Linked DNA regions of Homo sapiens: all the other regions are linked to region 2. The links come from fine-mapping of genetic effects on gene expression. A gene starts in region 2. Each other region holds a variant in brackets. All regions are shown on one strand. Distances are between the middles of the regions. Region 1 holds the start of ING4 (inhibitor of growth family member 4). Region 2 holds the start of LPAR5 (lysophosphatidic acid receptor 5). Region 3 holds the start of IFFO1 (intermediate filament family orphan 1).

The links. PIP is the estimated chance that this variant, and not a neighbour inherited with it, causes the effect.
Region 1: its variant is fine-mapped to the expression of LPAR5 in whole blood (INTERVAL, PIP above 0.99).
Region 3: its variant is fine-mapped to the expression of LPAR5 in whole blood (TOPMed, PIP above 0.99).

Annotation. Positions count from the first base shown.
Region 1 is chr12:6,661,294-6,670,971 of GRCh38, forward strand. ING4 (inhibitor of growth family member 4) reads right to left here and starts at 1,826. Exons shown (of 8, transcript NM_016162.4): 1 at 1,772-1,826. The coding sequence starts at 1,808. It overlaps ZNF384 (zinc finger protein 384), which reads right to left. Exons shown (of 12, transcript NM_001385745.1): 10 at 9,467-9,545; 11 at 7,738-7,896; 12 at 5,184-6,822. The coding sequence ends at 6,421. RefSeq lists an enhancer at 1,797-1,856. The variant A/G (reference allele first, on the strand shown) is at 5,508.
Region 2 is chr12:6,630,628-6,640,305 of GRCh38, forward strand. It overlaps LPAR5 (lysophosphatidic acid receptor 5), which reads right to left and starts at 5,332. Exons shown (of 2, transcript NM_020400.6): 1 at 5,280-5,332. It overlaps ACRBP (acrosin binding protein), which reads right to left. Exons shown (of 10, transcript NM_032489.3): 8 at 9,433-9,600; 9 at 8,327-8,410; 10 at 7,448-7,777. The coding sequence ends at 7,655. RefSeq lists enhancers at 1,374-1,423, 2,274-2,333, 8,210-8,269 and a silencer at 3,249-3,298.
Region 3 is chr12:6,552,221-6,561,898 of GRCh38, forward strand. IFFO1 (intermediate filament family orphan 1) reads right to left here and starts at 3,822. Exons shown (of 10, transcript NM_001193457.2): 1 at 3,037-3,822. The coding sequence starts at 3,809. It overlaps NOP2 (NOP2 nucleolar protein), which reads right to left. Exons shown (of 16, transcript NM_001258308.2): 10 at 9,664-9,678; 11 at 9,444-9,584; 12 at 8,711-8,850; 13 at 8,478-8,567; 14 at 8,227-8,349; 15 at 7,878-8,106; 16 at 4,651-5,422. The coding sequence ends at 4,773. RefSeq lists enhancers at 1-166, 1,798-2,298, 2,299-2,799 and silencers at 3,260-3,439, 3,550-3,789, 3,840-3,999. The variant C/T (reference allele first, on the strand shown) is at 5,110.

The sequences.
Region 1 (9,678 bases), 31 kb after region 2:
CACCATGTTAGCCAGGCTGGTCTCGATCTCCTGACCTCATGATCCGCCTGCCTCAGCCTCCCAAAGTGTTGGGATTACAGGCATGAGCCACCGTGCCTGGCCACCAGCCTTTGTTTTTTTTTTTTTTTTTTTTTTTGAGAGGGACACGGAGTCTTTCTCTGTCACCCAGGCTGGAGTGCAGTGGTATGTATGATCTTAGCTCACTGCAATCTTCACCTGCTGGGTTCAAGTGATTCTCCTGACTCAGCCTCCCAAGTAGCTGGGATTACAGTCACATGCCACCATGCCCAGCTAATTTTTTTTTTTTTTTAAAGTAGAGACTGGGCTTCACCATGTTGGACAGGGTGATCTCAAACTCCTGACCTCAAGTGATCTGCCCGCCTTGGCCTCCCAAAGTGCTGAGATTACAGGCATGAGCTACTGTGCCCAGCCTGTCTACCTCACTTTCTAAGCAGGAAGAAGCCACCTTAGATTCTTCCTTCTCTCTCAACCACTCAGTCATTCAGTCAGTCCTTTCATATTTAACTCCTAAATACTTCTGTAACTCCCTAAAATCAGGTTCTTATCTCTGTCCTGGAATGTTATCACTAATTGATCTCTGTTATCAACAATATCATGCTCCAATTTACCATATATTAGTCATTTTCCTCTATAAAAATCATACTCTACTTTAAAATGCAAACTTCTTCGTTTGGCTTAAAAGACCTTGTCCAATCTAGCCTCAGCCTCTTTCTCCAGTCTCCTTTCTCAATTTCTTACCTTAGATTCATAAATATCAAATACGCTGACCTCTGAGTCATAAATATCAAACACCCTTGACCTTGCCACAAACCCATCACAGTACCTTTGCGGATGCTTTCCCCAACCTGGAATTCCTTTTTTCTCTCCTCACTGGCAAATAACCTTCAAGACCCTATTCAAACATCACCTCCGCTGTAAAGCTTTTCCTACATCCCCAGGTAATTACCCCCCTTTTCTCCAGGGTTGCCTACCAAGTGTCCTTTTTAATGTATTTCCATTATCTCACTTGTCACAGTGTTTTATAATTATTTGCAGAATCTGTTTCCTACTAGATCGTGAGCTTCTTGAGGGCAGGAGCCTTGTCTTACTCATTTTTCTATCCCTAGTGCCTGCCATTATGTCTGACCCATAGCAGGACCTCAATAAATATTTGTTGAATAAATGACTCCGGGCCCTAAAACAAATGTAAGCGCACAGAGCAATAGGCTTTCTGCAGGGGTGGTTTACATAAATCGCATAAACACCAGATTTTCATTTGATGGGAATTAGATCTTTACTCCATGAAGAGAAGCGTTCTAGTTCATCATCTGACAGTGGTCACTCATCACCACCACTCTCAACCCCATGAGAAGCCACTTTTGAGGAAGAATGGAGTGGAGGAGAGGTCTTTACCGCTTCTCCAAATGGCAGTGTGTGATAACGATTCTGAACGACTATGGGGAAAAAAATCTACCGAGGCTGGAGACCCTGGAGAATGGGGGCAGCAACTATCTTCCTGGCCATGCACACTAGCCCTTCAAGACACGTCTCTAACCCCCACACCGCACCCCTCCCTCGTCTACACCCATCAGCGGGGCCTCGATCCTGCTGCCCCGCCCCCTCTTTCTCCGCACCCTCCAATATTTCCTGCCACAGAACCGCTTCATAATTGTGACCTTCTCGTCACTGGAACTTAAGGGCTACAGATCCTCTCATCCCTGATCCCCGCACCACTCTGCAGCCCCGACCCCCACCTCCAGCCTGCTCTTACTGTCCAGATAATGTTCCAAATACATCCCCGCAGCCATCTCGAAGCAAAACAAAGCAACTTCCGATCCGCCCCGGAAGTGACTGTAACGCGACAGGGGCCGAAGCCATTTTGCGGCTAAAGCCTTTCCGCCCTTAAAAGGAGAACTTCCGCCCTTAAAAGGAGAACTTCCGCCCTTAAAGGAGAACTTCCGCCCTTACTATATTACCGCCGGTACACATCCGCCCGACACTGAAACTTTTCCTTTTGCATGGTAGCCACGACCGCCCACAGTGAGGCGGCTGTAGCCCGCTTCCGCCCTTACAGACACCCCAGGACGCGACCGAGACAGGTATGACGTCACTGGAGGTCGCCATTTTGCATTCTCTAGCAAACTTTTTTCCCTCCAAAACGGGAATGTATGGTAATCCGTGCAGGGGTAACTGTTCACTTTAGGCTCATATTGCGTAAACATACCTTCTCAGCAACTGGAAGATCCAACTTTTTTTCCCTCTTTTGCAGAATGACTTTTTTCAAGCCAGTTAGTTTCTTAAGGAAGTTGGGGAAGAGTATCAGGCCTTGAGACATTTAAACCGTCTGAATTTCTATTCACTCACACAAACACCATCTCCCCCAGCATTATTTTTTTAACTTGAGAAAGATGATCACCTTTCTACTTATAAATACAAAGAATGACTCATAATAAAGCTATAATTCTGCACATCTTTTGTCAGAGCTCCTGTACGTTACACTAGAATACACTTTCACATATAAAATATTACTTCCTGCCTTGCCCTCTTGCTTTTTTTTTTTTTTTTTTGAGACAGAATTTTCACTCTTATTGCCCAGGCTGGAGTGCAATGGCGTGATCATGGCTCACCGCAACCTCCACCTCCCGGGTTCAAGTGATTCTTCTGTCTCAGCCTCCCGTGTAGCTGGGATTACAGGTATGCACCATCACGCCAGACTAATTTTGTATTTTTAGTAGAGATGGGGTTTCTCCATGTCGGTGAGGCTGGTCTCGAACTTCCGACCTCAGGTGATCTGCCCACCTCAGCCTCTCAAAGTGCTGGGATTACAGGTGCGAACCACTGTGCCTGGCCCCTCTTGCTACTCTCTAAGGGGGAAATCTCGTGTTTTTGTTTTCCTTTTGTTTATATGTGATGTTAGCATCATAATTCTGAAGGGATTGAGGGATGCAGCAGTATCACTACTGGGCTAGTTGGCTAGTTAGTTGCTAGCCATCACTCTAGTCAGCTATGGTAGAGTGATTTCTATGGTTTTCATCAGAATGGGAAGCAGTCAAGGGTATGAGAGGCTGCCAACACACTAGGCTGTCAACACACTGCCAACACAAAGGCCATAACCTAATAGTGGTGTTAGTAAGATAGTATTTTAGAGATAGCTGCCACCCCTCACACTTTTCGTACCCTCACACATCCTTCATAAGAATTACCAATGTCTTACGGCAAGTTTTTAAAGAGACAGACTTTCAGCTATATAATTTCTACCAAATATGTGGAGAAGAGGAACTTCCAACCCGGGGCGGATTGGAAGTTGCTTTGTTTTGCTTCGAGATGGATGCAGGGATGTATTTGAAACATTATCTGGACAGTAAGAGCAGGCTGGAGGAGGGGGTTCAGGGGCTGTAGAGTGGTGGGGGTATCAGAGCTGAAAGGATCTGTAGCCTGTAAACCCCAGGTTTACTAGTGTGCAGGTAGTAAGATACAGCAATAGAATCCGGGAAACTGCTCTAATTACAAAAGTCATGCTTTTCGGTAACTTGATCTCTGTGCCTGTTTTACTATACAATGAGACTACTACCTCCCTCATAGGGTTGTTGGAATAAGTGAGTGTGAGTGTATCCATAAAAAGAGTAGATTCTAGTTCTAATACTGGTGATGAAGTTAGGGCCATTAGGGCCTTTTCAAGAGTTGGTGAGAGTGGGAGGAAAAAGCAGTAAATATGCAGGGAGCTAAGAAACATTGGCATATTTGGTCATATGTGATACATTCATTGGTATTACACAACATATTGAGACACCATCTTAGGTGCCCACACAGGATATCTAGCACTAAATTAAGTGGGCTTTATTTATCCCAGCCCAACTACATAACAAGTACTATTGGCCAGCAGTCCCAGAGTTCTCAGGATGTGGGAGCTTGGTCACAACTTTCACAACTTTTTCGGTGCTTAAAGCAAGGTTTTTTTTTTTTTGTTTTTTTTTTTTTTTCCAGACAGAATCTCGCTCTGTGGCCCAGGCTGGAGTGCAGTGGTGCAATCCCGGCTCACTGCAACCTCCGCCTCCCAGGTTCAAGTCATTCTTCTGCCTCAGCCTGCAGCTGGGACTACAGGCGCGTGCCACCACACCTGGCTAATTTTTGTATTTTTATTTTACTTTTTTGAGAGAGAGTCTCACTCTGTCGCCCAGGCTGGAGTGCCATGGCACGATCTTGGCTCACTGCAACCTCTGCCTCCTAGGTTCAAAAGATTCTCCTGCCTCAGCCTCCTGAGTAGCTGGGATTGCAGGCGCCCACCACTATGCCTAGCTTATTTTTTGTATTTTCAGTAGAGACGGGGTTTCACCATACTGGCCAGGCTGGTCTCGAGCTCCTAACCTCATGATTCACCTGTCTCGGCCTCCCAAAGTGCTGGGATTACAGGCGTGAGCCACCGTGCACGGCCATCAATTTTTGTATTTTTAGTAGAGATGGGGTTTCACCATGTTGGCCAGGCTGGTCTTGAACTCCTGACGTCAAGTAGTCTGCCTGCCTCGCCCTCCCAAAATGCTGGGATTACAGGCGTGAGCCACCGCACCCAGCCTTAAAGCAAGTTACTTAATTCTCAAAAAAGGTATCTTCAGAGTTATCTAGTCCAATCCCTTCACTAACAGTTGAAGAAGCACCCTGGCCAACACTGGTTGATGGTAGGCAAAGGGCTGAAGTCCAGGTTTCATGACCACATTCTACTCCATAGTACTACAGCTCTCCTGCATAAATCAATCTTGCACCCCTTAACCGGTTATGATTTCCACAAGGTAACAAATACACATATGTATACACATTGCCAACTGCAAGCCCCTCTTCCACAGACTCAGGCAGGAGTGTAGGTCCTTTCAAGAGGCTTCCATTTTTCTTCCATAGGGAGCTTAGCTGTTTTGTTAACACATAACCAAAGCCTTGCTCTCACATATTTAGGCAATGCAATCCCCATGACAGAATGTGTATGTAGAAGTCCTCATAAACCAGGATTTCACTGGAGACATCATGAAACTGTACCCTTCCATGACTGGAGAATTGCACAAATGGGGCATCATCACACAAGCACTTGTTCATCACACACACACTCTGGTATAAATCCTCAGTACTGTTCTTGGACATCTCCCCAAATACCTTTTCCGCATGCTCGCTCACATCAGTAGCTCCACTGCCTCTGATCCTTTTACATGAATTTATTTCTATACAATGTTCTAAAAACACCCCTTGGTTTGTACATAAGTTTTTTTCTTTTTTTCTTCATTTTTAAATTACTTTATAACAACTGGTTTCCTGATTTTTTTTTTAATTTCCTTTCCTCTGAAATCTGCCATGATTTAAAAAAAAAAAAAAAAGACAAAAAGAAAAATGCTGTGGCTAGAGGACAGGGGTGGAGAGAGGGAAAAAAAGGACAAAAATAAACAAAACATCAAATATGAAAATTCTCAGAGATAATGCATTTATAAACACAGAAATGGTTACAACAAAGATGGCCGTGATGAGTG[A/G]GTATAATATATTTATATATATATATTTATATATAAATCCGTGTCCGGCATCTGACTGTGGCACCTAGGGAGCTAAGTCCAGTCCTTGCGTTTGCCTTGAACTCTCCCTTCTCCGCAACACCCCTGTTTTGGAGTTTCACAGATAACACAAAGCCTCCCACAGCTCCTTGGGGGTGGGTTGGGGAGACTGAGAGTATAGGGTCTTTGTAGGCAGAGAAGGAGAGAGGCTTCAAGGAAATCCGTAAAACCATAACACACACTTCTAAGCCACCTGTGACCAACTTGGGAATTTCTGGCCCCTTGGGGACCACATCTCAGCCCTTGCCCCCTTCAAATAAAAGGAGGTCTAGCCCCTACCCCAAATCTCCTTCTACCAGCAGTCAATAGGAAGCAAAGTGAGACGATGTAGGGGAAGAAATGGCTCTCAGGGACTGAGGCATTTGAGAAACCTCTGTTCTTTTGCAGGCAAGAATAGAACAAGAGGCTGGTTGCATTTGGGGCTCCCTTTTCTCTGTTATCTGGGAGGGCCAGCCTCTAGTCTTACATCAGCCCAAACTTTGAGGATAAGGAGGGTAAGGATAGGGTAAGTGGCCACACTGGACAAGGTTCTATGAGGTCATAGCAAATCCTTCCCTTGAGCACCGACCCCCAGTTTTAGAAGCTTTGCTTGGGAGGGGAGGCTGCTGGATGACACCATCAGCTCAGTATTCCTTTGCAATCAGGAGGGCTGATGTTCCTTTTGAAGAAGAGTTCAGAAAAAGGATGGTATCCTGTGAAGGAAAGCCGTGACAGAGGCCCAAGGAGATGGAGCCAAGGCCTGTCAAGGAAGAAAAGGACTTTTCCCACCAAGAGTTGGAGAAAGAAGACACCAGGACTACTTCTTCCTCTTCCCAGTGGGTGGCAGCACGGATCTCTAAGAGCTGGCCAGGTGCTCCACCTGGATGGTGCTGGTGGTGACAGTGAGGCAGATGTCCTTATGATGCTCCGCCGTCTTATACGGGGTCAGGTCAAAGGAACACTGGGGTGGAGGGTTGGGATTGCTGTCCCCACCACCCCCACCCTGGGGGGCTGCCCCAGGAGACTGGAAGTGTGGTGGTGGCTGTTGCTGCTGCTGCTGCTGCTGCTGCTGCTGCTGCTGCTGCTGCTGTGATGCCTGGGAGGCCTGGGCCTGGGCCTGGGCTTGAGCCTGAGCCTGAGCCTGGGCTTGAGCTTGAGCCTGGGCCTGGGCCACTGCTGCCGCTGCTGCTGCTGCCTGCACCTGTTGCTGAAGATCAGGCGGGTTGTGTTTGCGCATATGTTTCATAAGGTATGTTTCCTGAGGGAGATGGTAAAAAGAAGTTGAGGGATAAAGAGGAAGGAAAAGAGATTACTTGTAACTAGCACCCCAGGCTCTGATTCTGCTGTAAGCAGAGTAAGCTTTATACTGGTTTTCTGGAGCCAAGACTGAGCAAAACTCAAGTAGCACTTTCAGTGGCTCACTACTGAGAAAAAAAAGAGAGGAACCTTTAGAAGTCACTCAACATTCAACTGGCAAAGGAATGAGCTGCTATTTTTTTCAAAGACCCCTGAATGAAACAACTTTACAACCTTTTCTGGAGTCTCATGGAAAATATCTAACTGGGCCAGGTGCGGTGGCTCACACCTGTAATCCCAGTACTTTGGGAGGCTGAGGTAGGTGGATCACTTGAGGTCAGGAGTTTGAGACCAGCCTGGGCAACATGGTGAAACCCCATGTCTACTAAAAATACAAAAAGTTGCTGGGCATGGCAACATGCACCTGTAATCCCACCTACTTGGGAGGCTGAGGCAGGAGAATCGCTTGAACCCAGGAGGTGGAGGTTACAGTGAGCCGAGCCGAGATCACACCACTGCACTCCAGCCTGGGTGACAGGGCGAGACTGTGTCTCAAAAAGAAAAAAAAAAAAAAAAGAAGAAGAAAATGCCTAACTGAAATCCAGCTCCCCTCAAAATTTCAAGTGGCTTTATTTTGCCTTATGTTTAAGTAAAATGAAGAATTACAGCTTATGCGTCTCTATAGGATTAGGAGATCAGGCATCCCCTAAATTCCTCAGAATGGGTCTAATTAATTTCTGAATATTTACCTGTTCTGCTAAGTTGGAGCTAGGGAGGCAGGGTATTCACTGCAACAGATCTCTACCCAGAAAATGGGGTGAAGTGGACTGTACTCTTAGAGGACTATGAGGAAGGAGAGAAGAAACGGAGCACTCACTGATGTGTATGCCCGACTGCAGATAGTGCAGGTGTACACCTTGGCATGCTTCACTGTGTGCGTAGACAGGTGCACCTCTAGTGAGGCTGCATCCGTGTACGCCCGATGACAGTTGTGGCACTTGAAGGGTTTATCTTTGTTGTGTTGCCGTCTGTGGGACTGAGAAAATTGGGAGAAACCAGAATGAATACATTGTACTCTTTCCTCCTGCCCCCTTGACCTCGATGGAAAGCAAAAAGGTAGGTGTCAGGCCTCCCAGCTTCTCCCTCTATCTGAAGAAAGTAGAAATTGTTTCAAATGAAACTTGAGAAGCTACAGGCTAAGGGTGGAAGCATACCTCATGTAGCACATACCAGGATCCCAAGACAGCTTATGCCCGTCTCACCAGTCCAGTGGTTCTTAAAATGAGGCATGGGGATCTTTAGGGAACACTAAGACCTTCACAGGGGGCCCACAGGGTCAAAACTCTTTTTTTTTTTTTTTCCCAGATGAAGTCTCTCACTCTGTCGCTCAGGTTGGAGTGCAGCGGCACAATCTCGGCTCATTGCAACCTCCGCTTCCCGGGTTCAAGCGATTCTCCTGCCTCAGCCTGCAAGTAGCTGGGACTACAGGCACATGCCACCAGGCCTGGCTAATTTTTTTTGTATTTTTAGTAGAGACAAGGTTTCACCGTGTTGGCCAGGCTGGTTTCCAACTCCTGAGCTCAGGTGATCCGCCCGCCTCCGCCGCCCAAAGTGCTGAGATTACAGGTGTGAGCCACCGCGCCCAGCCAAATCTTTTCAAAATAATAAGACAATGTTTGCCTTTGTCTCTCTTGAACCTGGGAAGTTGCAGTAAGCTGAAATCACACCACTGCACTCCAGCCTAGGTGACCCAGCGAGCCTCTGTCTCAAACACGCACACGCGCGCGCGCACACACACACACACACACAAACACAAAGATGAAAAACCTAACTGAAATCTTGTTCCCCTCAAAATTTCAAGTGGCTTCATTGTGCCTTATGTTTTACATGTAACCCTTACAGAGGTTACATGATGTGTGATAACACAATAGGCCAGATGCAGCAGATCTGAGAATCTACTCATCTTCTAGCTTAAGACATTAAAGACCCCTGTGCCAGGTGCGGTGACTCATGCTTGCAATCCTAGCACTTTGGGGAGGCTGAGGCGGGAGGATGGCCTGTGTCCAGGAGTTCGAGACCAGCCTAGGGAAGATAGCAAGACCCCATCTCTACGAAAATGAAAAAAACAGCCAGGTGTGATGGTGCATGCCTAGAATCCCAGCTACTTGGGAGGCTGAGGTGGAAGGATCACTTGAGACCGGGAGGCTGAGGCTGCAGTGGGCCATGATAACACCACTGCACTCAGCCTGGGTGACAGAGCAAGGTCCTGTCCCAAAAATAAAAAATAGACACCTGCAAAAATGTATAATAATGCCATTCTTCTCACTCAGTTGTTTTTGGAGGGTCTTGGAATATGTTATTTATGTTAACACACAATGGGTTTATTTTTGTTCTTTCTAAACAGATTACTATTATAAATATTTTTCAGGTTTTTCAGTTTTACAACGTCTATGTAGACAGCTATTACCCACATAAACAAAAACTCTTTGGGTCCCTCAATAATGTTTGAGTGTAAAGGAGTCCTGAAAACATTTGAGAACCACGATACTATTCAAATGGCCCCATGTCTCAGACTCAAGGTCTTGTGTGGAGGGTGGAACATTTACCTGCAGATTGGAGAGTTGTGTGAAGGCTTTCTCACAGCCTGGGTGTGCACATTTGTATGGTCTATCACCAGTGTGGATTCTGCACAGGATAAGAGAAAAAAGGGAAAGAATGTCAGCAAGACCATTTAGGAACTGGCTCAACAAATCTTCTCCAGGCCCATCCTGCTCTCCTAAGGAGGCACATCAGATGGGCCTCCAAGAGGCACCAGCCT
Region 2 (9,678 bases):
TTTTTAGTAGAGACAGGTTTCACCATATTGGTCAGGCTGGTATTGAACTCCTGACCTGAGTTGATCCACCCGGCTCGGCCTCCCAAAGTGCTGAGATTATAGGCATGAGCCACCGCACCTGGCCCCAGCCCATCTTTATAAAGGATCCTGGTGGTCAAAAAGCCGCCTCTTTCTGACAGTCACACAGAACGGCCCAAGCTGAGCACTGAGAGCTGCCAGGCCCCTGGCCTGGTCCCCATCCCACACTTCTGCTTCCCGAGCCCTGGGGCTCCCTTCAGGAGCTGAATGGGCACAGTGCCAGGCCAGATGGCGAAGATGGAAAAAACTGCCAAAAAGGAGGCTAACAGGATGTGGAAGGAGGGAATCTAGGTGTTGGGGAGGGGCAGCCCAGACCCTCTCCCCCAATCCTGCCTTGAAGAAGAGGTCAGGCTGTAGGAGAGATGCAGGAATCAAAGAAATGGCAGCTGCCCCAGAAAAGAAGGAACACCAGGAAGGAGGGACATGGAGGCCCCCATAGGCTGAAGAACGTCGGCACACACTGATGTCAGGTAAGTATACCACTCATTACACGTGTGTGCACAGACACATATACACACACGCTAAGAGATGTGCACACAAGACCCCTAGTAACATAGAACTCAGTGTCTATACACATCCTGTAATAAACACGTATGTGCATAGACAACTGGGCTGGGGAGGAAGAGAAAGAAGGCCCTGCCTTAGGGACAGTATCCTTACACAGACAGAACCAGGCAGCTTCACAAGCATGGGAGATCTCAACCCCAAGGCACTGAGGAGCAAAGTGACCACGACACACACAGAGGGTCCGGGACTGCTCCTTCTATATCACCCACCCCAACACCGCTCACACACCAGAATGTGTGCAGCCACCTTCCTTCTCCCTGGGTCTCCGTCCTTCAGCTTCCCATGTACACATCCGGGGGCCAGGTTACTTACCTCCTCAGGGCCTCTGGGATCTGTCCCATTTGCCCTCTGAGCTGGGCTGGGCACTGCTCTTTGCTGAGATAAGCCAGAGGGGCAGGGCTATTTTATGCCAGAGGCAGGAAGTGAGAACAAGAGTGTAAAAGTGAGCAGGAGGTGCAATCATGATCATTCCCTCACTCTCCTCCACACACCCTGCCCTGGTATCCAGCCTCTTGGGCAAATGACGTTGAGGGGAGCTGAAGAGAAAGGACCAGGGGGCTGGGAACAATGAGAAGGGCAGGGGCAGGGGAATGCCTCCTCTTTGCCCAGTTCCTCCCCCATACCCTTCCTGTGTTGCCCACCTCCCCGCAAACACCACATGCCTTGCTCTGTCTTTTGCCTCCTTTCTTTCTTTCCGTTTTTTTTTCTTTTGTTTTTGAGACGGAGTCTCGCACTGTCGCCTGAGCTGGAGTGCAACGGTGCAATCTCAGCTCACTGCAACCTCTGCCTCCCGGATTCACGCGATTCTCCTGCCTCAGCCCCCTGAGTAGCTGGGATTACAGGCGCACACCACCACACCCGGCTAATTTTTTGTATTTTTCGTAGAGACGGGGTTTCACTATATTGGCCAGACTGGTCTTGAACTCCTGACCTTGTGATCTGCCTGCCTCGGCCACCCAAAGTGCTGGAATTACAGGCGTGAGCCACTGGACCCGGCCTGCCTCCTCTTTCAAATAATTCACATCCTGGGTCCCCTGACTCCAATTCCTAGGGTCAGAGGTCTGAAAAGAAGGTTCTTACATCTCCCCATCCTCCTTGCCCCTGAGAATCAGCTCTGGAATAGCCCCACCCTCATTTTAGAGTCTCGTGGCCCATCAGTGTCTCAGCCCCGACACAGGAAGTCCCTCTTTAGTATGTACTCTAACCCACTCGCTGAATTAGCGAAGCCTACTTCCTCTGCTTCTGTGTTCAGGCAGCGCTGGGAGGATGCACCCTTTCCCCACAGACAGGCTTCATCATGAAGACTCAGTATCTCTGTATCCAGGCCCTCCAAACAGACCCCAGCTGTGCTGAGCCTCCAGCAGAAGCTTAGCTCAGTCCAAAGCCTTTGTGAAAAGCTCTGTCCCAGAGCTGTTTTGAGGGCACAAATGAATCCTTTTCTTCCGCTTATCCTGGTCCTGAGGGGCAGGGATGAGATGGAAGACTAAATGGAACAGGAGGATGAATCCTCATCCTCAAGGTTTGGAGACAGTACAAAGTCCCCAGGGTGGGCGGGGAGGCCTCCTTCTGCCCAGGGGCCACATTCTTCCTCAGAGAGGAGTCTCTGGCACGGATCCCGGGTGTCAGGTCGTGTCTTCCCTCCTCCCTGGCCCAGGCCTGCCTGCTTCTCCAGCCAGAATTCCTGCTCCTGCCTTTCCCCACCCTTCTCTGCTGAAGCCTGTCTTTTCCTGCATTTCCAGCATCATCCTCGGCCCTGGCTTCTCCCTCCCTGAGTACTCTGACCTCATCCCTCCTGACATTTGTCTGGGAAAAGGCAGAAAGCAAAGGTGGTCTACAGCTCAATAACTAGTTTCCCTGATGTGCGGATATCACCTTGCCATTGTGCCTCTCCCTTTACCCTGCTTTCGAGAGCTGGAAAAGCAAGAAAGTCAGTCCCAAGAGAAGCCACGGAGGCAGGCCCAGCCCCCTGACCTGTGTCCTGAGGTGGTCTGTGTGCATCTGACCCTTGCTTGTAGCCTGGCAGGTCCTGCTTCCTCAGGGAAATCCACCAGAGCCTGTGGGCTTTGCTGACCTCACCTGACTTTAGAGTGCACTGGCTTCAGCCCTCACTGCTCTTGCCGGTTCCTTCTCCTGGGTTTTGTTTTTTTTTTTTCTGAGATGGAGTCTCGCTTGCTGTGTTACCTAGGCTGGAGTACAGTGGTGCAATCTCAGCTCACTGCAACCTCCGCCTCCCGGGTTCACGCAATTCTCCTGCCTCAGTCTCCCGAGTAGCTGAGACTACAGGCGCCCGCCACCACGCCTGGCTAATTTTTGTATTTTTAGTAGAGATGGGTTTTCACTGTGTTGGCCAGGCTGGTCTTGAATGCCTGACCTCAGGTGATCTGCCCTCCTCAGCCTCCCAAAGTGCTGGGATTACAGGCGTGAGCCACTGTGCCCGGCCATTCTCCTGGGCTTTTTAAAATGCCCCTGGGCATAAAAGATCTCTGTCAGTAGGTATGTCCTGGGGTATGCACTGGGGGCAGCAGAGTAGGGAGAGCAGATGGCATCAGACAGATGGAGTTGGGCTCTAGTGCCTCTGAGTGGCTGGGTGGTGAGTCCTGTACATACTGCATGTGAGTAAGTTTCTGTCTCACCTCAATCCCTGCCTCCATGTCCCACTGGGTCTACAACTTTAGCTCACCCTAAAAGGAGGATTTCTGCCAGCCTGGGCAGCATAGTGGGACCCCATCTCTACAAAAAATATTTTTTTTTTGAGATAGAGTCTCGCTCTGTTGCCAGGCTTGAGTGCAGTGGTGTGATCTCAGCTCACTGCAACCTCCGCCTCCCGGGTTCAAGGGATTCTCCTGCCTCAGCCTCCCGAGCAGCTGGGACTATAGGTGCGTGCCACCGTGCCCAACTAATTTTTGTCTTTTCAGTAGAGACGGGGGTTTCACCATGTTGCCTGGGATGGTCTCGATCTCTTGACCTTGTGATCTGCCCGCCTTGGCCTCCCAAAGTGCTGGGATTACAGGTGTGAGCCACCACGCTCCGCTCTACAAAAAAATTTCAAAAAACTAACAGAGGCCGAGTGTGTGACTCGCGCCTGTAATCCCAGCACTTTGGGAGGCAGAGGCGAATGGATCACTTTAGCGCGAGTTCAAGACCAGCCTGGGCAACATGGTGAAACCCTGTCTCTACACAAACACACACACACCCAAAAAAAATACAAAAAGTAGCTGGTTGTGGTGGCTCAAGCCTATATTTCCAGCTATTCTGGAGGCTGAGGCAGGATAATAGCTTGAACCCAGGAGGCGGAGTTTGCAGTGAGTCTAGATCATGCCACTGCACTTTAGCCTAGACGACAGAGCGAGACCCCATCTCAAAAAAAAAAAAAATTAGCCGGGCATGGTGGTGCCTGCCTGTAGTCCCAGGTACTCGGGAGGCTGAAGTGGGAGGATTGCTTGAACCCAGGAGTTTGAGGCTGCAGTGAGCCATGTTCATGCCACTGCACTCCAGCCTGGGCAACAGAGTGAGATCCTGTCTTGAAAAAAAAAATGGCTGGGCACCGTGGCTTATGCCTGTAATCCCAGCACTTTGGGAGGCCGAGGCAGGTGGATCATGAGGTCAGGAGTTCAAGACCAGCCTGGCCAAGATGGTAAAACCCTGTCTCTACTAAAAATGCAAAAATTAGCCGGGCATGGTGGTGCGTACCTATAATCCCAGCTACTCAGGAGGCTGAGGCAGAGAATTGCTTGAACCCAGGAGGCGGAGGTTGCAGTGAGCTGAGAGCGTGCCACTGCACTCCAGCCTGGGTGACAAAGGGAGACTCTGTCTCAAAAAAAAAAAAAAGAAAGGAAGGAAGGAAGAGAGAAAAAAAGGAGTAGTTCTGGAGATACAATCTGGTGGAGGTCCCCTTCTTGTCATGGGGGCCCCACAACCACAGGGAAGAGGTAGGCCCCATCCTCATGGTGTGATGTGAAGGTATCATAAAGCCCTGCTGACCTCCGAATATGTCCCCCACCTCCAAAATTCCATCCCCTGAAGCCACCATCTATCAGAGCCATAGGGACATCAAAGACCATCAGTCTAATCCCCTTATATAGATGCACCTTTTGGGTTAAGGCAGCACTTCCTGAAGACCCCATTACAGTACACCTTGGCTAGTTGGGAAGGATAACACTGAGAACACATCTCTGCCAGTCAACCCATTAGCAAGTTTGATTAGATCAGCTCATTGTCATCTGCCTGGCCCTGGGGGATGTGTGGTGTAGGGGTTGAGGTTTAACTGCGAGTGGAAAAAGTGTGTAAACAGTCCCCAGAGGGCCCTCCCTGGGAGGCCCAAGGCTCAGTTCCACAGTGGGGGCCTAGAGGGGGAGGGGGAGGACACAGCCTCTGCGAGATGCCCCAGAGTGGGGGCTTCAAGCATCAAAGAGGAGCACTCCCGAGGTGTAGCAGGCATGTTAGCTGTTTGTCCAGCGCCATCTGAAAAGATCTGTCTATTTGAGGCAGCTCCTTTCGGCTTTTTACTCTGTTCAGAAGGGTTTTCCAGGGCCCATGCCCACCCTCTTCTCTGTCCCCCACCCAAATCTCCCATTTCTACAGGGGGGTGCTCCCCTTGTGCTCCCTGTGCAGTTCAATTCGTGACACCCCCATACCTGTGCTCCGTGTTGCTCTGCGCTGCCCCAAGCTGGCTTCCGCTGCCTGCTCTGGGCTGGGCTGGGCTGGGCTGGGCTGGTAGGACCTGCTCCCAGGGCGGGAGGGGACACACCCACCTCAGCAGATCTCAGCCCATCCCTCCCAGCTCAGTGCACTCACCCAACCCCACACGGGCCAAGGAGAGAGTGAAGAGGAAGCATTGCCCTCAGAGGCCTTCACGGACTGGCCAGAGAAGAAACCCCAGCAGCTAAGGATACTTAATCCAGCCCCGACTAGGAACTGCCCCCACCCATCGTTCAGATATTCCTGCTGTGTCTGGGAACTCTTCCTGGCACACCCACCGTCTGATGCCAGATGACTAACCCACCAGCCTCTCGCTGTCCTCACCGGTTCCCCCTGGGTGTCTGTCTTCCTTTCCTAGGTCTGCCAGGTGGTTTAGTCCATGCTACTCGTGGCTTAGTCCATGCCACTCGTGGCTTGTGCCCCACCCTGCCCGGGGCCCTCTTCATGACAGTGCTCTGCTAGGTCCTGCCTCCCACTGAGCACACTTGGCTCCCGCATCGAGCAGTCACTAGGCTGGATGGTTCCTCTTTGCTTAGGTCTGTTTCTCCTCAGCCCGTTGTCTTGTGTCCTCGGGCCAGACAACACAGAGACAAGTGGCCCTGTGGGCACAGGGCTGGGCATGTTGTCCATGCTCAATAAATAAAAACAAGTTCAAGTTTTTTGGTGGTAGGTGGAAAAGGGATTGTGGTGAAATGAGTTTGGGAAGCACTAGGTTAAACAGGTTTCTCTATTACCGCGCTCCGGAGGGCCTTAACATGCTGTCAGATGATAGGCCTTGTGTTGATCATGGAAACTGGGTGAAGGGTACATGACAGTGCATTATACTTTTCTATTTTTGTGCATGTTTGAACTGTCATAGTAAGCAAGCTTTAACAAAATGCTGTTAATTACTGCGAACCTATAGAAGGGAGAGAGACTCTACAGTGTCCCTGGAACATACTTTGGGATATGTCAACTTATTAAAGGCCAATGCTGAGCCAGGCACGGTGGATCACACCTGTAATCCCAACACTTTGGGAGGCCGAGGCGGGCAGATCACGAGGTCAGGAGTTCAAGACCAGTCTGGCCAACATAGTGAAACCCCTTCTCTACTAAAAATACACAAAAAATTAGCCGGGCATGGTGGTGTGCGCCTGTAATCCCAGCTACTTAGGAGGCTGAGGCAAGAGAATCACGTGAACCCAGGAGGCGGAGGTTGCAGTGAGCCAAGATAGTGCCACTGCACTCTAGCCCAGGCAACAGAACAAGACTCCGTCTCACTAATAATAATAATAATAATAAAGGCCAATGCTGGAGTCATACCTCAATGTAGGTTGTTAAGATGCAACCACTTAAACATCCAGATCATCTGGCAAATTCCTGTACACCAAGGGTTTCCTTCCTGTAATCCCAGCACTTTGGGAGGCCGAGGTGGGAAAATTGCTTGAGCCCAGGAGTTCGAGACCAACCTGGGCAACATGGAGGGACCCCATCTCTACAAAAAAATATAAAAATTAGCCAGGCTTAGTGGCACATTCCTGTGGTCACAGGGACCTGAGAGGCTGAGGTAGGAGTGTGGCTGGAGCCCAGGAGGTCAAGACTGCAGTGGGTGGTGATCATGCCACTGCACTCCAGCCTGGGTGACAGAGCGAGACCCTGTCTCAAACACAAAACAACAACAACAAAAACAACCCCAAGGTTTCCTGATCTAGGCTATAGTTCCTGGTTTTTCCCTTCCTGATTAAGTGCAAGGTGCACACTCCCTATACCCCAGGATTGGTCCCTTTGGAAAAGATCTCATCAGGCTTTGGCCTTTATCCTACAGAGGAACAATACTACACTCGCATCTGACATCACGGGGCTTAGGGCTTCAGAAATGAAGACAGGTGCCCACATGCCCACATCATCCCTAGGGCCCCAGCCTTCTTGGCCTTCCTCAGTTCACCTCCCTGGGTTCTCAGGTCTTCTGCTTCTCCTGGCAGATGGCTGCTTCCCTGAGCACCATTCCCATGAGATTCTCTCACCGGCAGGTGGATCCATAAAACCAGGGGTTGGGGACTGACTGCCACGGGGCAGGGTAGCAGTGCTGAGGATGGGGATCATAACCAGAACAGGCCACACAGGCTGAAGATCAACATTTTATGTAAAGTCATCTTTTAAGGAGGGCGCAGCTCCCACCGTGGCCCTCTCTGGGACTGTTGCTCCAACCCAAGGAAATGTGAGTAGGGGCCGAGTAACAGACCCAGAAGGGGCAGCCTGAAAGCAATGGGGTCTCAAAACAATAGAGAACGTGGGCAGGTTGGGCTGGGGTGTGGGCAGAATAGACGCCAGCTCATCCGAACTGGCCTAGAGTCAAGGTGCTGAACTCCTGGCTCCATCGAAGCACAACGTCCTCACTTTTGCCAGGGCTCAGCGCACTGTAAGTCTCATTCTGCAGACATCTCATGCGGGACACCTACACAGAGATTCAGTGCAGACGGTCTGTATCACAGAGCCAGGTGCCAGGAGTGGGGAGGAGGGGAGGTGTCAGAAGCCCAAAAGAACGAGAGGTGGGCAGGCATGGGCACAGGGCAGTAGAGGGAAGGAGGAAACTCAAATGTGGGTTTTTAAAGCCAGAGGAGACATCAAGCAGCCCAACCCCTTTCATGCAGAAACAGGCGGCTGAGGCTCAGAGGGGGAAGTGCCTCATCCCAGGCTACTTGGTGAGTAAGAAGAGGAGACAGACCGAGACCTCAACGTCCAAGTCCTGGCCCAGCCAAGGGTTCTTCCTGTGGTGCTCTTAGGACCCTCCTCTGTTATCCACCAGCTGCCTAGGAGGGCCTTGCTTCCGCCAGGACTGGAGGAATGGAGGAGAGCCTGCTGGTGGAGGCCTCTGCCCCAGAGATGCAAGCAGGAACCGCTTTCCACATCCTAGCTGCTCGCAGAGGGGGCCTCAGAATAGACCAGTTATGGTGACTGATTGAGGGGGTGCTGGGAGAAGGAGGGGCAGGGCAGGGGTGCTCACCTTCCGATTGCGGTTTCTCATCAGACACTGCTGGCTTTTGAAGGAACAGTAGTTTGGGTACTGGATATAGTCTGTGTCACAAATCTAAGCCAAGAGCCAGAGAGAGGGAAGAGGGTATCAGAAGCCTCACCAGGCAGCAGCACTCCAGGGAATATCTGCTAGGGCAGAGCCAGGGGCAGGGTGTGGCCCAAGACCCAGGTCTTCCACACACAGGCGGCCCCTCACTCCGCTTTCCCTCTGCCTTTCCCCTGCCGCTCTGTCACAGGTTGCTGGGAAGAAGCCAGGAGCCTGGGAGAGTATGAGGCTGCCAGTCAGCTTACTGGGAAAGTGGCTGAGGAAGCGGGAATGGGGCAGGACGGGGTAGATAAGGGTCCAGAACATGGGACAGGGACCCGATTAGTGGCCTGATGTCAAGGATTTTTCTGGTAATGGTAGATAAGGGAAGGGGGAAGTGAGTCACTGCCTTCTTTGGACCTCGCCTCCCCATTCCAGATCAAGGGGCCCAGGGACAAGAGCTGGACATGGGCCCCCCAGCTCAGCTACCAGCCCTTGCTTCAGCTGCCCTTACTTTTCCTTGCCTTGGTTTTCCCTGCTAACTACAGGAGGAGAGGCCTGGATCTAAAACAACAGGTCATTCCACAGGGGAGGTAACTCAGGGGAACGGGGAGCCAAGTTGATTTAATTGAGCAGGGAAGGCACTGGAAGAGCTGGGAAGCCCGTCAGGCTAAGGCCGGGAAGTCCTGGATCACAGGGTTGGGCAGTGGTGCACGTGTCACTCAGTCATTTCTTGTAGAGATGACTCTTTGATTGAGTAGGAAGTGACTTGATCACAGCCACCCAGCAAGTAACTGGCAGAGTTGGGACCAGAACCTCTAGCTCCTGTTTTCTCAGCCCTCTGGGTCCCCACTCCTTTGCCTGCTCTATTGGTGGAGGGTGGGGTGGGGTGCAATGGTCTCTTGGAGAGAGGCAGGAGATTCAGTGAGGACGGGTTCTCAGAAGCCAGGGGCCCAAGCCCCCTTCCACAAACTAGCGCTACTCACAGCAAGTAACTGGAAGGAATGGGGTGAGGGTAGGGATGGGGCTGAGCTTTGGGGAAAGGTTCTAACCTTGGTAGGGAAATCCCCATCCTGGAAGCTAAGGAACTCAGTCTGGAGCCACCCAGAGACTCGGACATCTTCACAGCCTTTCGTGGCAAGCCGGGCACACCAGAAGTCCATGTGGAGCCCACCGTACAAATCCAGCCCGTAAAAGCGGCCTGATTCTGGGGACCCTACCTGTGGCACAGGAGATAGGGGAGAGGTGCGTGCCCCTCCCCACCTGCTGGCCACCACCACCCCACCCCTGCCACCCAG
Region 3 (9,678 bases), 78 kb before region 2:
AGCCTCTGGGTCCCATCTCCTCATTCACAGCCGCACTGCAGTATTCCTAATAATAACTCCTCCACATCACCTCGACTGCCCCTCCCTGCTGGGCAGAGCAGGAGGAGGCAGCCAGCCCAGCCACCACCCTGCTGGCTCCCCACACAGCCCAGCTCCCAGCCTTCCTGGCTCCCAGCCCCCTTCCCTGTGTGTCCCGTAGGTGCTTCTCCCCTCCTCCCTGGCATTCTCATGCATACAGTCAGGCCACTAAGGGAACCAGTCGCATCAGATTATGTTTTCTTAGCTAAGACCCTTATCTTTTCTGGGTCTTGGTTTCTTCATCTATGATGTGAAGGCATGAACTGTGGTGCCCTCATGCGCCGGGAGCCCACGAGTCCCTGGAGGGAGACAGTAAGCCTGTCAAGGGCACGCTAACCCTGGACAAGATGTGTGAAAGAGGGCAGGAGGGGCTATCTGACAGTGAGCTCAACAGAGCCTGGAAGAAACTTAAGTAAGGCAGTTATAGCTAAAGGTTAAGCCTAAGGAAATCTTACAGGGTAAAAAAAATCTACAAATGAATCATCTGGAAGCCCACTACAGTTCTATTTGTTCTTTGGCCAGACTTCACACAGACAGGTTCATTTTCACCTCCATTTCCATCTGGTCTCACTTATAAGGTTCCCTTAACATGGGCAGAATTTGAGAGCGATATCCATGTGTTCTGCATGGACCAAATATCTCTCTTCCAAAAAACTGTATCCCTGGGTTGAAGAGAGAAAGCAGGGACCATTCCTATGTTGGGAAAATGGGGGCTCAAAAAAAGGTCACGCACAAGGCAGGGGAGCTGAAAATAGAACGCAGGAGGCCTTTAGCTACCTCCCAGTGTAGCGCTCAAGCCATCCCAGGCCTTCCAGGCAGAAGACAGGAGTTACAGTGTTGCTATAAAGAGACCAGAATGAGGGCAGGGAATCTAGGGAGGAAGAAGAGTCACTGCCAGTATCACGCACCATCCGAATCCAGCTAAGGCTCTCTACACAGCAGCGTGCTGCAGAGCGATGAGCTAATCAGTCCCCAAGGAATAACTCCTTCCTGTCCTGGACAGCTGGACCAAGGACAAACGCTCCTTCAGTTTAAAAAAAAAATGCTCCTGAGAACAGCAGTTGTTCCTGTGGTTATGGATGTATTCCAGAACTGTGCCTGTGCCACTGCTGAGCGCGTAGTTAACTCCTGCAGGGGCAGAGCAGGCTGGTTCTGGGTGGCAGAACGATGATTTCAGGACAACTGAAACTCCCAAGGACACATAACATGGACCACAACTAAGGAAGCCAGCACGAGGACAGGACTCAAGCTCAGAAAGCCTGCTGATCAGGTCAGGAGTTTGAGACTGGCCTGGACAACGCAAAAAGAAAAAAAAAAAATAGCCAGGCATGGACATGGTAGTGCACACCTGTAGTCCCAGCTACTCAAGAGGCTGAGGCAGGATGATTGCTTGAGCCCAGGAGGATGAGGCTGCAGTGAGCTGTGATGACGCTACTGCACTCCAGCCCGGATGACAGAGCAAGTCCCTGTCTCAATATTTTAAGTCAAGGGTCTGTAGTCATGTGTTCAACGCCACTTCTTGCCATCACTTTGCAATTATTGAAATGGGCATACTGAGCTCAGAAAGCAAATCTGATGCTTTCACGGGAGACAGAGCCACATTTGTGTTCTGGGTGGGATCACTAGTGCAGGAGAACACTACATCTTCTTCTGAAGGCAAAATGCTTGTAGGTTTTGCCTCTTTACTTTGCATTTACTTCTAAAATTGCACTTGTTCACCTACCAGTGTTTACGAAATCCTGTATTTGGGATGCTTTTTCTATAATAAAATATTATCATTTATGGGAAAAAAAAAAAAAGAAAGCCTGCTGATCTGTGATCTGGTAAACTCCAGCAGGGTGGAGATCCCTGAAGGTCGCCCCTAGACCCAGCGGTCATTTCCTAGAACATTCGGCCAATCCTCACCCAGTGCTGAATCTCCGCCACACTGGGCTGCATAGGTAGTTCCCAGGCCCGCCCACAAGGGGTCATAATAGCTGAGATGAGAGGGGAGGCCGCCAAACCAAAGCCTGTCAGTCACCCGCTCCCTCCTCAAGGCTTGGGTTGGAGTCTGCAAGACACTACCTCTGCTCTCACTCCTGTCCTATCGGCTTGGTTATCAGCCATCTAAGGAATCCACTTGGTATACAGCCAGCACTCCTGGCATCACATCCCTTTCCCTTGCCCCTTGGGGCCGGGCTCCTCTCAGACAGCCAAATCTTCATCCACAGAATGCACCGGGCCCGCCCCGCGGCCTCGCGGTCCTAGGGAGGGCCCATATCCCAGCTTCTCCCTGCTCAGTCCCCTGCTGGCTCTCCACTCTCCCTCCCCACTGGCGCTTTATACTGCCAAGATTCCCCTGTCAGCCCTGCTCTCCACCCTCACCCTAGTGAATTCCCTTCACTCTTTCTTTTCCCAGTTTGTTGACCTACTCAAGCAATGGCTTGAGGTCCCGGAGCTTTTCCTATGAAACCACAGCAGGTACCTGGTTTCCATCAATATTCTTTGGGAAACCTTGGGGTGTGAAAGAATCACTCGTTGCAAGGTACAGCCCCTCCCTCACCAGCCCCTTCCAGTTTCACTCAATTTAGTCTCCCAAATTTACGCTATATCCTTGCCTCCTACTTTTGAAGTTTATATCCCTAACCTGCCCCAGGGCTGAGACCGGTAGGGCAGAGCCCCAGTCCCTTTCACACCGCACAAAACCCGCAGTTAAGCCTGGATGGCAGAGACAAGCCGGAAAAGTAGGAATCCCCCCGTGTTCCGCTCCCAGCGTCCTTCTTCCTGTCACGAGCAGGGCTTCTGCATTCTCTGCGGATTCTAGTCTCCCTGCATCCAATTGCTTCCAAGCTCCTCATTACACAGCACAAACTTTACTCTCATTCTTTTCACCCCTGATTCTTCGGAACCCACACCAACTCGCGGCCCGTTGTGAGTGGTATGACACAGAGAGACCTGTCCCCCTTTCCCAATCCCTACCTCCGCTTGTACTCGTCCCGCTCCCGCTTCACTTTGGCCAGCACGTTGTAGAGAGCGCGGATCTCGGGCGTGATGGTGTCGATCTGGACGCCCACCCCATCCGGGTGCACCCACGACAAGCCAGGCCCTTGCACCAGAGTGGGCTCCAGTCCCGGCCCGAGCCGGCGGGCGTGCGAGAACGACCAGATGGTGCCGGGCATGAAGCGGGCCGACGAGGAATAGGTGGTGGAGGTGGAGGTGGAGGACGACGAGAGGCTGGCCGCGGAGGGCGCGAGGGGGCCGGCCGGGGAGCGCGCGGGCGAGCCCAGCACGCGCGCCGAAGGGCTGCAGACAGCGGCCGGCCGGGCGCCCAGCTGCAGCCCCAGGGGCCGGATGGGGCTGACGAAGCCGGTCTGCACTGCCTGGTCGCGACGACCCAGGCCCCGCCGGCCCTGCTTACCCTCCTCCAGCGCTTGCTGCAGTTGCTTCTCCAACAGCCGGTTCCGGCGCTCCAGCTCATGCACCTTGGCCAGGAAGCAGCGGAACCGGAGGTTCAGGGTCTTGAGCACGTTGATGTTGGAGCCCAGGTCATTGCGGAGGGCCATGGCGGCAGGCGGGGCCGGGCCCGGCCCGGGCGGCGAGTAGGCAGCAGGGCCGGCCGGCGAGAGAGGCGCCGGGGGCAAGTCTCCTCCCCCGGCGAAGTGGTCGCCTCCCAGTGAGTCCCCCAGTGGCCCGGCCAGGCCCTGCTGCTCCTGCTGCAGGAGGAAGAGGTTGGGGCCGAATAACGGATTCATGGCTGCGCCTTCTGCTGGGAGATGCAGACCGGTGCAGGAGCAGGGATGGAAGGCGAGCCAGAAGAGCCAATGCGGCGCCGGCGGGACAGAGCCGACCAATCAGGCGGCTCGGCAGCGGGGCAGAGGTCAGGGGGCGGGCCGAGGGGAAGCCAATGACAGGCTCCAATTGGAGGCCGGACCCTGGACCTTTCCGGGTCTGAGGCCGAGCCCTGTGATGAGGGGAGCCACCGCCTGGACTCCAGCCGGGGTGGCGTAAAGCCCAGGACCTCCAGTACCCCATGGGTTCTGGTGGCAAGCCCATCTCCCCTACACGACTTTTTTTTTTTTTGAGACCGAGTCTCACTGTCGCCCGGGCTGGAGTGCAGTGGCGCGATCTTGGCTCACTGCAACCTCAGCCTCCCAGGTTCAAGCGATTCTCCTGCTTCAGTCTCCCGAGTAGCTGGGATTACAGGCACCCGCCACCACACCCGGCTGATTTTTTGTATTTTTAGTAGAGACGAGGTTTCGCCATGTTAGCCAGGCTGGTCTCGAACACCTGACCTCAGGTGATCCACCCGCCTTGGCCTCCCAGAAAGTGCTGGGATTACAGGCATGAGCTAGTGTGCCCCGCCTTCCCCTACACTTCTATTGCCCTCCTCTCCCCGGAGTTCAATCACCCCTAGCTCTGACTCCAGGGCTTTCCCTTCCTGGGAAAACCCAAGGATGCAGGAGCCTAAAACTGACCTTATTTCTCAGTAGCACCCAACCATTCCCTCTCCTCAGAAGATCCCAGTCCCACCTCCCATCTTTACCCTTAAAGCGGCAAAGGCAGCACCCAGTTCCCTCAAAAATACTCAGTGGCCAGAGGTTTTAAAATGTGTATTAAATTTCATGGGTATGCACAGTAGAGAAGGCATCCTCACAGAGGCAAGAGTTCCAACCTGGTGACAATGGCAGTGAGCCACCCGTCTAGTTTTCAACCATCTAAGATAGCAGCAGCTGGCTGTTGCCCCTGGACTGAGATTTCTTCCTCTTTGCTGGTGGGGGGCGGCTGGAACGGATGGGAGACACAGTGGGAGGCTGAGGCCCCTTGGGGGTATCATTCTGTTTCTGGAAGGCAGCTTTCTCAAAAGGCTGCTCTGGCAACTGCTGCTTCTCAACCCCCTTGGCCCTTCCAAGGGGCTGATGATGGTCCTTAGGTTTCAGGGTGGCCTGAGTCTTGGATGGGGATAACACAGCCGGTGTTTGTGTGTCTGTGCCCTTGGGAGGGGCATTCTGCCTGAGGAAAGCAACTTTCTTGGAGGACTGTAATTTAGGTGAT[C/T]GTTGCTTTAGCTTCCCAGTCACCTTTGGCTCCCTGATCCCTTCGGCTTTTCCAGCTGGCTGACTGCTATCCTGGAAGCTGGAGGAAGCTTGGGTCTTTGTGACAGAAGGTACAGTGGACAATTCTGAGTCTGCCCCTTTGGAGATGCCATTCAGCTTCTGGAAGGAGGCCTTCTTGGGATGTTGCTGTTTCTGCAGCTGCTGCTTTGTCTTTGCAGCCCCCTTGGCTTTCTTGGCTGGCTGGCTGCTGTTCTCAGACTTGGGGATGACCTGAGGCAAGTCTACATTTGTAGGTGTGGCTGTTTCAGAATTTCCTGGGGTTAAAATTAAACAGATGGTGTCAGAAAATGGGCCTTATCACCATATTTTAATATTCTCATATTAAAATATGAGAATTGCCATTTCCTGGGCAGGAGCTCCACACAATTAGGTCAGTGCCTAAGAGCAGATTACCTAAATTCCCATTACTTAATATAACTTGGCCTTTACTCAAGTCCTAGTTGAACCTTGTATTAAAAGATCACTGCCTATAGGCCAGGCGTGGTGGCTCACACCTGTAATTCCAGCACTTTGGGAGGCCAAGGCAAGTGGATTGCTTGAGGCCAGGAGTTCAAGACCAGCCTAGCCCACATGGTGAAACCATCTCTACTAAAAATACAAAAATTAGCCAGGGATGGTGGTACACACCTGTAATCCTAGCTACTTGGGAGTCTGAGGCACAAGAATCGCTTGAACCTGGAAGGTGGAGGTTGCAATGAGCTGAGATTGCACCACTGCAGTCCAGCCTGAGCGACAAAGCAAGACACCGTCTCAAAAAAAAAAAAAAAAAAAAAAAAATCACTGCCTATCCTTGGGCCAAAAGGTTTCTACAGGAAGCTGCGCCCTCTTGAGGACAGGAAGTAACAAGATGCTGTAAGGAAGAGGTGATTCTCAGGGTTTTGGGGTTTTTTTTTTCTTTTTTTGAGATGGAATCTCACTCTGTCACCCAGGCTGGAGTGCAGTGGTGTGATCTCGGCTCACTGCAACCTCTGCCTCCTGGGTTCAAGCAATTCTCCTGCCTCAGCCTCCGGACAATCACAACCGTGCGCCACCATGTCCGGCTAATTTTTGTATTTTTAGTAGAGATGAGGTTTCACCATGTTGACCAGCTGGTCTTGAACTCCTGACCTCAGGTGATCCACCTGCCTCAGCCACCCAAAGTGCTGGGGTTACAGGCGCGAGCCACCACGCCCGGCCTCGCAGGGTCTTCTAAATGAATTTGAAGCACTAGGCTTTATTTATCTTTTTTTTTTTTTTTTTGAGGTAGAGTCTCACTGTGTTGCCCAGGCTGGAGTACAGTGGTGCCATCATAGCTCACTGCAACCTCAAACTCCTGGGGCTCAAGGGATCCTCCTACCTCAGCCTCCAGAGTAGCTGGAACTACTGTCTCCCTTTGTTGCCCAGACAGGTCTCAAACTCGTGGTCTTAAGCAATCTTCCCACCTCAGCCTCCCAAAGTACTGGGATTTATAGGCATGAGCCATCACCACACCTGGCCTATTTATTTTTTAAATCAGAGAAGTTTCTTTCCATGTGAATTGTGATGAAGTGCGGGATAATTAAAATATGTACTTTTTAAGTTATAGCAAATTTTACTATTCCTTTTTTTTGAGATGGAGTTTTGCTCGTTGCCCAGGCTGAAATGCAATAGCGTGATCTCGGCTTACTGCAACCTCCACCTCCCAGGTTCAAGTGATTCTCCTGCCTCAGCCTCCTGAGTAGTTGGGACTACAGGCACGTACCACCACACCTAGCTAATTTTTTTTTTTGGAGACGGAGTCTCACTCTGTCGCCCAGGCTGGAGTGCAGTGGCACAATCTCAGCTCACTGCAAGCTCCGCCTCCCGGGTTCATGCCATTCTCCTGCCTCAGCCTCCCGAGTAGCTGGGACTACAGGCGCCCACCACCAAGCTCAGCTAATTTTTTATATTTTTAGTAGAGATGGGGGTTTCACTGTGTTAGCCAGGATGGTCTCGATCTCCTGACCTCGTGATCCACCCGTCTTGGCCTCCCAAAGTGCTGGGATTACAGGCGTGAGCCACCGTGCCTGGCCACACCCAGCTAATTCTTATATTTTTAGTAGAGACAGGGTTTCACCGTGTCGAATTCCTGACCTCAGGTGAGTGCTGGGATTACAGGCATGAGCCACCACGCCCAGACAAATTCTACTATTTCTAAAGTAGCACTTCTCTCCCTCTTCCAACTAAACCCAGGGTTATATCCCAGTAAGCAGTGCTCTCAAGGCTGTTTCAGAAAACCCCACCCTTCCCTTGAGATCCAGGCCAGACTCCTCAAGATGGCTGAGAAAACAATCTGCAATGAGTGTGAAGGGCTCAGAGAACTGCTGACAAAGCTCTGTGGAGCTCTGTTCCAACCCAGTGCTGAGATTGCTGGACCAGCAGAGGTCCAGTACCAGTAAGTCCACCCTGTGCCAAGAAGGAAAAGAAACCACAACCTGCATTTGGAATGCATTTAGTGCTGAACAACTGCAGCCACTTGGCAGAATAAAGGAACAGGCCTCCATCCATATGAACACTTTAGCCTGTTCACATGGGGTCCAGCACTCAAAAGCAATTCTAGCTGGAATGAGAGGGTTCTCTCAGCCAAGCATGCAAAGGCTGGAGTAAGGGATGCATGAATCTTTCCTTTCCCTTCCTCTTGTCACACCATAAAGCCTCCTGAAAGGTGGAAAGAGCAAAGGTGGTGACGAAGGGAAGAAAAAGATTACTTACCTGTCTGGGACTGAGGGATAGAATTGGAAAATTTCTTGAACTTGGCAATGAAGAACCCATCCATATTGTGGGTATGAGGGTAGAAGCGTCGGGTAGAACGCAGACTGGGGTGGAAGCGCCTTTCTCGAAAGCGGGTAAAACCTTCCTGGCCAAAGTCTAGGCCCGTGGGCACCAGTCGCACATTCCTCTTTTTCAGAGCATAGTCTACCACCCACTCATTCTCTTCTACCTGGATGTGGGGGGAAGACAAAGAACGGAGGAAAAAGCAGAGCTGGAGCTGAAGGGAGCTCTAAGGGGCAAAGAGCCCCCCAGCCCAGCCTCCCCTGCTCTGCCATGGCAGAGGTCTCACTGTGATAGAACAGGTGCAGTAAACCAGGTAGCCTCCTGTCTTGGAGGTCGCATTGACAGAGTCAATAGCACTCAGGAGCAACTCCTTCTGGAGGTGAGCACAGCGCAGGATGTCCTTCTCATCCTGTCCCAAAAAGAGACCCAAAGGCAGCCTCAGGAGGAGAGGGGAGCCCAGAGGGTGTCCCCATCTCAGTTTCCAGCTCTACGAGACCCAGCCAAGGCCTCTCAGGGGCCCACCACCTGACTCCTCACCTTGTTAGTCTTCACGGCTGGATCCTTGGAGATGACCCCAGTGCCACTGCAGGGAGCATCCAGCAGTACTCGGTCAAAGCCCCCCACCACCTGGAGAAAAGATACAGATGAATCATATGTCTCTTCTGCAACCAGCAGGGCAATATTTACTAGGGTCGAGTCTAAACATTGAGGTCAGGAAGGGAGAAGGTCAACCGGAAGAAGCCTCAGAAGACACACAGCTCGAGTCTCACCTTGGGGAACTGGCGCCCATCATAGTGGCTGATAATGGTGTTGGTGACTCCCAGCCGATGCAAGTTGCCCACAACACTCTTGAGCCGCTCAGCATTGGCGTCATTGGCAAGGATCACACCCGTGTTCTTCATCAGCTGGGCTAAAGAGAGGGCAGTAACAGTGCTGATCAGCCAGTTCCACTGTCTCCACACTTGCTCCCACCCTCCTGTCCAGGAATCCACATGAGAAGTGTCATCACCTCAAGGCAACTTCGCTCCCAACAAGCCTGCCTACTGTATAGGCTGATCCACTCTGCACTAGCCCCTGGTGATCGGCAAGTCTACCGATGTGGTTTTCCCATTTTTACCAAACACCTATGTGGTCCTACATACTAAATTACTTCTTTTAAGTGACAGCAGCTTAATAAAAGTTATGGCTGCTGACTATGTGCTGAACACTGCCAAGGACTTCTAAACGCATCATTTTAACCCTCACAATCCAAGCGTAATACAAGGGCCAACCCAAGCACAATTACCATCCCATTTTATGGATGACAAAAGAGAATCCATAGTCAGATGGGTAGTAAGTGGCACACTGGAACCCAGGCCGACTCCAGAAACTGGTCCTCACCACCCTGCTAGCTACCTGCACATTGTGTTCCATGAGCACTAGTGAGTCAGCAACCCCAGCAACCCCATCTACTTTCAAAAGCAAGACAGCCCGATGAATCCCACCTGCCTGCCCCTCTCATACCCATGTAGCTGGTCTTTCCTCCAGGGGCACAACACATGTCCAGGATCCGCTCATGTTCCTGGGGTGCCAAGGCCATGACGGGCAACATGCTGGAGGCTCCCTGCAGCATGTAGTGCCCAGCCAGGTACTCGGGGGTAGCACCTGTGGAGAAGGACCACCCTGTGACATGCGGTAGGGACAGGGACAGAGGTAGAAGGGCTCTTGGGTGGGGGAGACTTACCAATGGGCACAGAAG